2 linked regions of the Homo sapiens genome follow. The protein of the gene in region 1 interacts with the protein of each later gene in a pairwise test. Each region holds a gene or a part of one and is shown on either strand. Other genes may lie near its edges.

Evidence for each region.
Region 2: the proteins of NDEL1 (region 1) and ZNF211 interact in a two-hybrid assay, tested with the Homo sapiens proteins (2 studies listed by BioGRID and IntAct).

Annotation. Positions count from the first base shown.
Region 1 is NC_000017.11:8,456,384-8,459,883, forward strand, and holds part of NDEL1 (nuclear distribution protein nudE-like 1), read left to right. Parts: intron 1-3,500. UniProt on the Homo sapiens protein: Required for organization of the cellular microtubule array and microtubule anchoring at the centrosome. May regulate microtubule organization at least in part by targeting the microtubule severing protein KATNA1 to the centrosome.
Region 2 is NC_000019.10:57,636,168-57,639,667, reverse strand, and holds part of ZNF211 (zinc finger protein 211), read right to left. Parts: intron 1-3,500.

The DNA of each region.
Region 1 (3,500 bases):
TGATTTACTCAACTTTAAGCAAAGATATTTTTATTTTTATTTTTTGTTCTTTTAAAAAAATTACTTTAACATTCTTGAACTTTTGTTTCTGAATGTATTAGGTTATATCTTTTTTTTTTTTTTTTTTTTTTTGAGAACGGAGTCTCGCTTTGTTGCCAAGGCTGGAGTGCAGCGGCACGATCTCAGCTCACTGCAACCTCTGCCTCCCAGGTTCAAGCGATTCTCCTGCATCAGCCTCCTGAGTAGCTGGGATTACAGGCACATGCCACCACACCTGGCTAATTTTTGTATTTTTAGTAGAGACGGGGTTTCACCATGTTGGCCATGCTGGTCTTGAACGCCTGACTTCAGGTGATCTGCCTGCCTTGGCCTGCCAAAGTGCTGGGATTACAGGCATGAGCCACCATGTCTGGCCAGTATTAGACTATATCTTAACTCGCTGTTCTCTCCCTTTCTTCCCCACCACACTCCCACTCCGCTTTCCTTTTCTGAGCCCTCTACTAGCTGTGTGAGCTCTCTGTTGGTTGGTTCTAAAAATGGAAAAGTAGTCAAACAGCATTTGTAACAATGCACATATATGTGTTATTTACTGTGTAATCACAGAGGAGATGCTGGACTTTCAGATGGGTCTTTATATTTGTGCCATTCAACAAATGTGTTTTGAGAATTTTGTTCTTTAACTGTAATTTACTCAAAATCATACTGGGTTTTTAAATATTTCGTATTGTAGCTGACTGTACGCTGCTTTCTTTTCCTAGCATTTCTGTTTCCCCTTCTTTCTTTTGAGTAGAAGAAACCTACACCTTTCTTTGCTCTCGGATCTTCTAGCTTCTTCTTCACACTCTTTGTGGGATGCCCTGATGGGCTTCGAGGGCTGCTGCATTGTTGTCGCCCTCGAATTTCTCTCCATTTTACTCTTGGGTTAGTTCTGCCTGTTCCTCACCCCACGTTGTTGTCTGTCTTTGTTCCTTGTTTGTTTTGCTTTAGTACTTTAATTTATTCAGAAGTGGTGCATGAAAGTTTAATTTGGCATCCTTGTATGGTTTACACATTCAGCTGACAATCCGTCTTCTAAGAGTTATCAAAATAACGACCTCCAAAAGTCATCAACACTTTGGGTCTGCTGGTGTCCACCAGCCCTTGTTGGCTTTTATGAATATTTCATTTATGCCTCTTTACACGACTTTGTCCACTGACTTGAACTGGAAGCCCTTCTCCACTCTTGCATGCCTTCACAGAGAAAATCAAGGCCATTTGTTTTAAGCTTCTTTGATTTCTTTTCTCATCTTTTGTTATTACTCTCCTATTATTACCTCTATTTGTAGCCATTCCTCCTTTTTGTCCCAGTGGTAAAAGTGCAAATTCCTGTCCGTGGCTAATTTTGTCCATCTGTGCTTTGGATCTCATTTCTTCCAACCCTTAAATCTTTATTTCTCCTGTATTTCAGCCTTTTACTATATATGCGTTAATATTTATGTATAATGTTTATGTATTACACATTATATGTTATGTGTTATACAGGTATACTTTGATATTTCTGTATTACATGTTATCCATATAAATATATGTAATACTTATGTGGTACATATTACATACTTTAAAGCTTCTTGAAAGCGTGTCCCCATTTATTGTTAGCATTTTGACTGCATGCACACGCCCCAGACACTTTAGCCTGGGCTCTGTCCCCTGCTTATGCCGCTAAAACTGCTCACTGGTGATCTCAGTGCTGTCAAATCCTGTGGATGCCGTTCTGTCCTAATTTTACTTGAAGCATTCAACACTGACCGTTTTTTTTTTTTAATGCCCTCTTTTCTCTCCTTCTCTGATGCTGTTTCATGGCTGCTCCCAACTTTCTTTCCATTCCTCTTAGTCATCTTGTTGGGTCTTCATCTGCTCACCCTTTCGATATTGGTTTTACTCAGAGTTCTGTCCTTGATTTTCTGATCTTAATCACAGCCATAGTTTCATCCACCCCTGGGTGTGGATGTCTTTCAAATCTTAATCTCTAGACCACCCTTTCCCCCCTCAAAAGACCTGGTGCTCGTGCTTGGATGTCTCACTGATGTCTCAGACATAAGTTGTGCCTGCCGTGTGATAGATACTCAATATGGATTTGAATGAATGCGTGTCTTGAATATAGGAATTGAATGGCTCTCAATTTCTACTGTGTGTGTGTGTGTGTGTGTAGCTTTAATAAGCTGCTGAATTATTGCTGAATTATGCTTATTCAGAGTTTGTTTTACAAGGTCATTACCTCTCTTCCTTTTTTCTGTTGTCATTTTAGTAGGTCATTGTACTTTTGTCATAGGAAAGAAGGAGAAGAAAAAAGTTTGTCTGTTTTTGTTGCTGTTTCTTTTTTTTGAGACAGAGTCTCACTCTGTCGCCCAGGCTGTAGTGCAGTGGTGCTATCAAGGCTCACAGCAATCTCTGCTTCCTGGGTTCCAGTGATTCTTGTGCCTTAGCCTCCTGCGTAGCTGGGATTACAGGTGCATGCCACCACACCCAGCTAATTTTTTTATTTTTTCTTTAGTAGAGACAGGGTTTTACCATCTTGGCCAGGCTGGTCTCGAACTCATGGCCTCAAGTGATCCACCTGCCTTGGCCTCCTAAAGTGCTGGGATTACAGGAATGAGCCACTGCACCCAACCATTGTTGCTGTTTCTGAATAGCTGTTATTGAAATGTGGGGGGAGGAGGTCCAAATGGATTCTCAAAGTGAAGTATATGTTACCTGTGGATTTAATTTAGCTGTGCATTCCCAGTCCTTTACTGTCATGGATAATAGACATGAATTGTGTATATATATATTTTGCCATGGATAGTATTTTTCTTTTCGGAGAAGGAGGGGTTTGATTTGGGCAAAGTGTTTATGGGAAAGAGACAGCTGGTGAAGTGTGAGTGTGTGGAAATACATGAGAAACGCCTGATCTCTCCATGTCATCTGCGTTGGTAGAGCCCTGTGCTTGCCAGGTGTTGTGGTGACAGGTGCAAAACAAGGGTGCCCAATTTAGAGGTAAATGCTAAAAGGCCAGTGTCATTTGCGGGTGAATTATTTAATTACAGACAAAGGGTATCAGTTAAACATTTTACAGAGTGCTGTCAGAAATAAAATAGCTTTTAATTTCATGTAAAGTGTTGTAAATGTTCTCATCCATTCTCATGCAGTAGAAAAAATGAAGAACCTAGAGAAAGAATTGGCTGCCGTAAAAAAAATTCTCAAGTGATATTTTTGGGTTTTTTAATAGTGCTTGCTCCCAAAACACACCCTGCCCCCCAACACCAACTAACAGTCTACAGCTTAGAAACGAGCAATGGATAGGGTCAAGAGACCTGGGATCTGCTGTTCCACCTCCTGTACCACACTTTTTTTAGTTGTAAGGGGAAGATTATATGTATTTCCTTCAGTAACGCTAAGAGGAGGAAACAAAATATTCTGAGGTCATTAGAAAGGGAGCATAAGTATTCCCCCTTTTTATTAGAAAGTTGATTGATTATGGCTGA
Region 2 (3,500 bases), on another chromosome or scaffold:
GATCAACTGAGGTCAGGAGTTTGGGACCAGTATGGCCAACATGGTGAAACCCTGTCTCTACTAAAAATACAAAAATTAGCTGGGTGTGGTGGTGTGCGTTTGTAATCCCAGGAGGGATTACTCAGGAGGCTGAGGCAGGATAATCGCTTGATTATGGGAGGCAGAGGTTGCAGTGAGCCGAGATCGCCCCACTGCACTCCAGCCTGGGCAACAGAGTGAGACACCATTAAAAAAAAAAAAAAAAAAAAAAAAAAAAAAAGTACATAAAGGAAATGACAAGGGAAGTTTCACTAAAAAAAAAAAAAAAAAAAAGTGAGCCAAACACAAAAGAAGCAGTAATGCAGGAAATTAGGATCAAAAAAGCTATAAGGCTATAAGACATGGGGAAAACAAAGAGCAAAATGATAGAAGTCTGCCCTTCCTTATCAGTGATTACCTTAAACGTAAATGCCTTAAATGCTCCCAACTTTTAGCTTAAACTCTGCCAAAAGACAAAGATTGGCAGAATGGGTTAAAATAAAAACAACCCATGATCCAACTTTATGATGTCTACAAGAGATTTGCTTTAGATCCAAAGATGTAAATGAGGTGAAAGTGACAGCCTACAAAAAGATATTCCATGCAAATAGCAAGCAAAAAAGAGTAAGAATGGCTACATTAATATCATACAATAGAGATTTTAAATCAAAAAGGGTAACAAGAGATATAAAAGGATATTATATACTAATAAAAGGTTCAGTAGAGCAAGAAGATATAACACTTATAAACACTTATGCACCTAATAATAGACCATCAAAACACATGAGGCAAAAATGGACAGAACTGAAGGGAGAAATGGATAGTTCTACAATAACAGTTAGAGACATCAATACCTGACTCTCAGCAGCGGATAGAACAATCAGAGAGAAGAGAGAAAACAGAGGACCTAAACAACCAACTAGCTCTAACAAATATATAAAGAGCATTCTACCCAACAACAACAGAATGTACATTCCCCTCATGTGTACCAAAAACATTCTCCAGGACAGACCATAAATTAAGCCTCATTTGATTTAGACACACATCATACAAAGTATCTTCTCCAACCACAGTGGGATGAGGTTGGGAACTCTTAATAGAAGGAAACTAAAAAATTTACAAATCTGTAGAAATTAATACAATATTGAAAAACCAATGGGGCCATGAAGAAATCAGAAGGGAAATAAATTGGAGATGCAGTAAAAGCAGTACTAAAGGGGAAATTTATAGCTATAAACATTAAAAAGAAGAAAGATCTCAACTCAACAATCTATTTTTACAACTTAAGGGATTATAAAAAGAGGAACAAACTAAAACCAAAGCTGGCAGGAAAAAAATAATAAAGACTAAAGTCTAGATAAATAAAATAGAGAAGAGAAAAACAATATAAAAAAAAAATCAACAAAACCAAAAGGTGTTTCTTTGAAAAGGTTATCAAAATTGACAAACCTGGCCGGGTGCAGTGGCTCATGCCTGTAATTCCAGCACTTTGGGAAGCTGAGGTGGGTGGATCACCTGAGGTCAGGAGTTCAAGACCAGCCTGGCCAACATGGTGAAACCCCATCTCTACTAAGAATACAAAAATTAGCCAGGTGTGGTGGCATGTGCCTGTAACCCCAGCTAATCGGGAGGCCAAGGCAGGAGAATTGCTTGAATCCAGGAAGTGGAGGTTGCAGTGAGCCAAGATCACACCACTGCACTCTAGCCTGGGTGTCAGAGCAATACTCTGTCTCAAGAAAAAAAAAAAAAAAAAAGACAAACCTTAAAGAAAAGCCCTTGACTTGATGGCTTCACAGATGAATTCTACCAACCATTTAACTAAGAACTAATACTTATCCTTTTCAAATTCTCTCAAAAAACTGTAGCATACACACATCTAAACTCATTCTGTATGGCCAGCATTACCCTGATTCCAAATGACACAAAGATTGTGTAAGAAAATAAAACTACAGACCAATATCCTTGATGATTATTAATGCAAAAACCATCAACCAAACACTAGCAAACTGAATTCAACAGCATATTAAAAGGATTATGCACTACGACCAGATAGAATTTATTCCTGGAATGCAAGGATGGTTCAACAAACAAAAACTGATCAAAGTGGTGGCTTACACCTGTAATCCCAGCTACTTGGTAGGCTGAGGCAGGAGGATCGCTTGCGGCCAGGAGCTTAAGACCAGCCTGTGTAACATAGCAAGACCCCATCTCTAAAAAAATTAAAACGATCATCTCAGCTGATGCACTGAAAGCATTAGACAATATGCAACACTTTTTCGTGGGGAAAACACTCAGAAAACCAGGAATACAGGGAAATTACCTAAACATAATAAAATCCATATGCAAAAAAAAAAACCTACAGCTAAAATTATACTCAACAATGAAAGACTGAAAGATTTTCCTCTAAGATTAAGGACAAGATAAGGATGCTACTTTTAGCACTTCTGTTCAACATAGCAATTAGGCAAGAAAAAGAAAGAAAAGGGACCAAAATGGGAAAGGAGGAGTAAAATTATCCCTGCTCACAGATGATATACATGGAATACCATAAAGATTCCACTGAAAAACTGTTACAACTAATAAGGAAATTCAGCAAATAGGAGAATATAAATACAACATGCAAAAATCAGTTACGTTTCTATACACTAATGGTGAACAATTTGAAAAGTAAACAATTCCACTTATATCAAAAAGAATAAAACATTAAAGATTAACTTAACCAAACAAGTAAAAGCCTTGTACACTAGAAACTACAAAATTTTGCTAAAATGAATTAAATAAAACATTAATAAAATAGATCACATGCCTGCTCATGGACTAGAGTGCTCAATATTGTTAAGATGTCTATACTAGCCAAAGTAATCTATAGAAAGTGCGATACCTATCAAAATCCAAATGACGTTATTTTGCAGAAATAAAAAAATCCATCCTAAAATTCATTTGAAATATCGAGAGACACAGAATAGCTAAAACAATCTTGAAAAGGATGAAAGTTGGAAGACTCACAGTTCGTAATTTCAAAACTTACTGCAAGGCTATAGAAATTAAAACAGTGTGGTACTCCCATAAAGAAAGACATATAGATCAATGGACTAGAAGAGACCCCAGAAATAAACCCTCAAATATCTGGCCAAATGATTTTTGACCAGGAGAAAGAAGACAAATTTTTAACACATGATGCTAGGAAAACTGGATATCTACATGTGAAAGAATGAAGTTGGTCCCTTACCTGACACCACATATAAAAATTAATTCAAAACAGATCAAAGATCTGAATGTAAGTACTAAAACTATAGAAGTCTTAAAGCAAGGAAAAAGCTTCATGACATTGGACTTGTTAATGATTCCTTGGATATGATATAAAAAGCATAGACAATAAAAGTAAAAAAGTAAAACTGAATTCATCAAAATGAGAAACTTGTACATCAAAGGATCCTATCAACACACTAAAAACGTAACCCACAGAATAAGAGAAAACATTT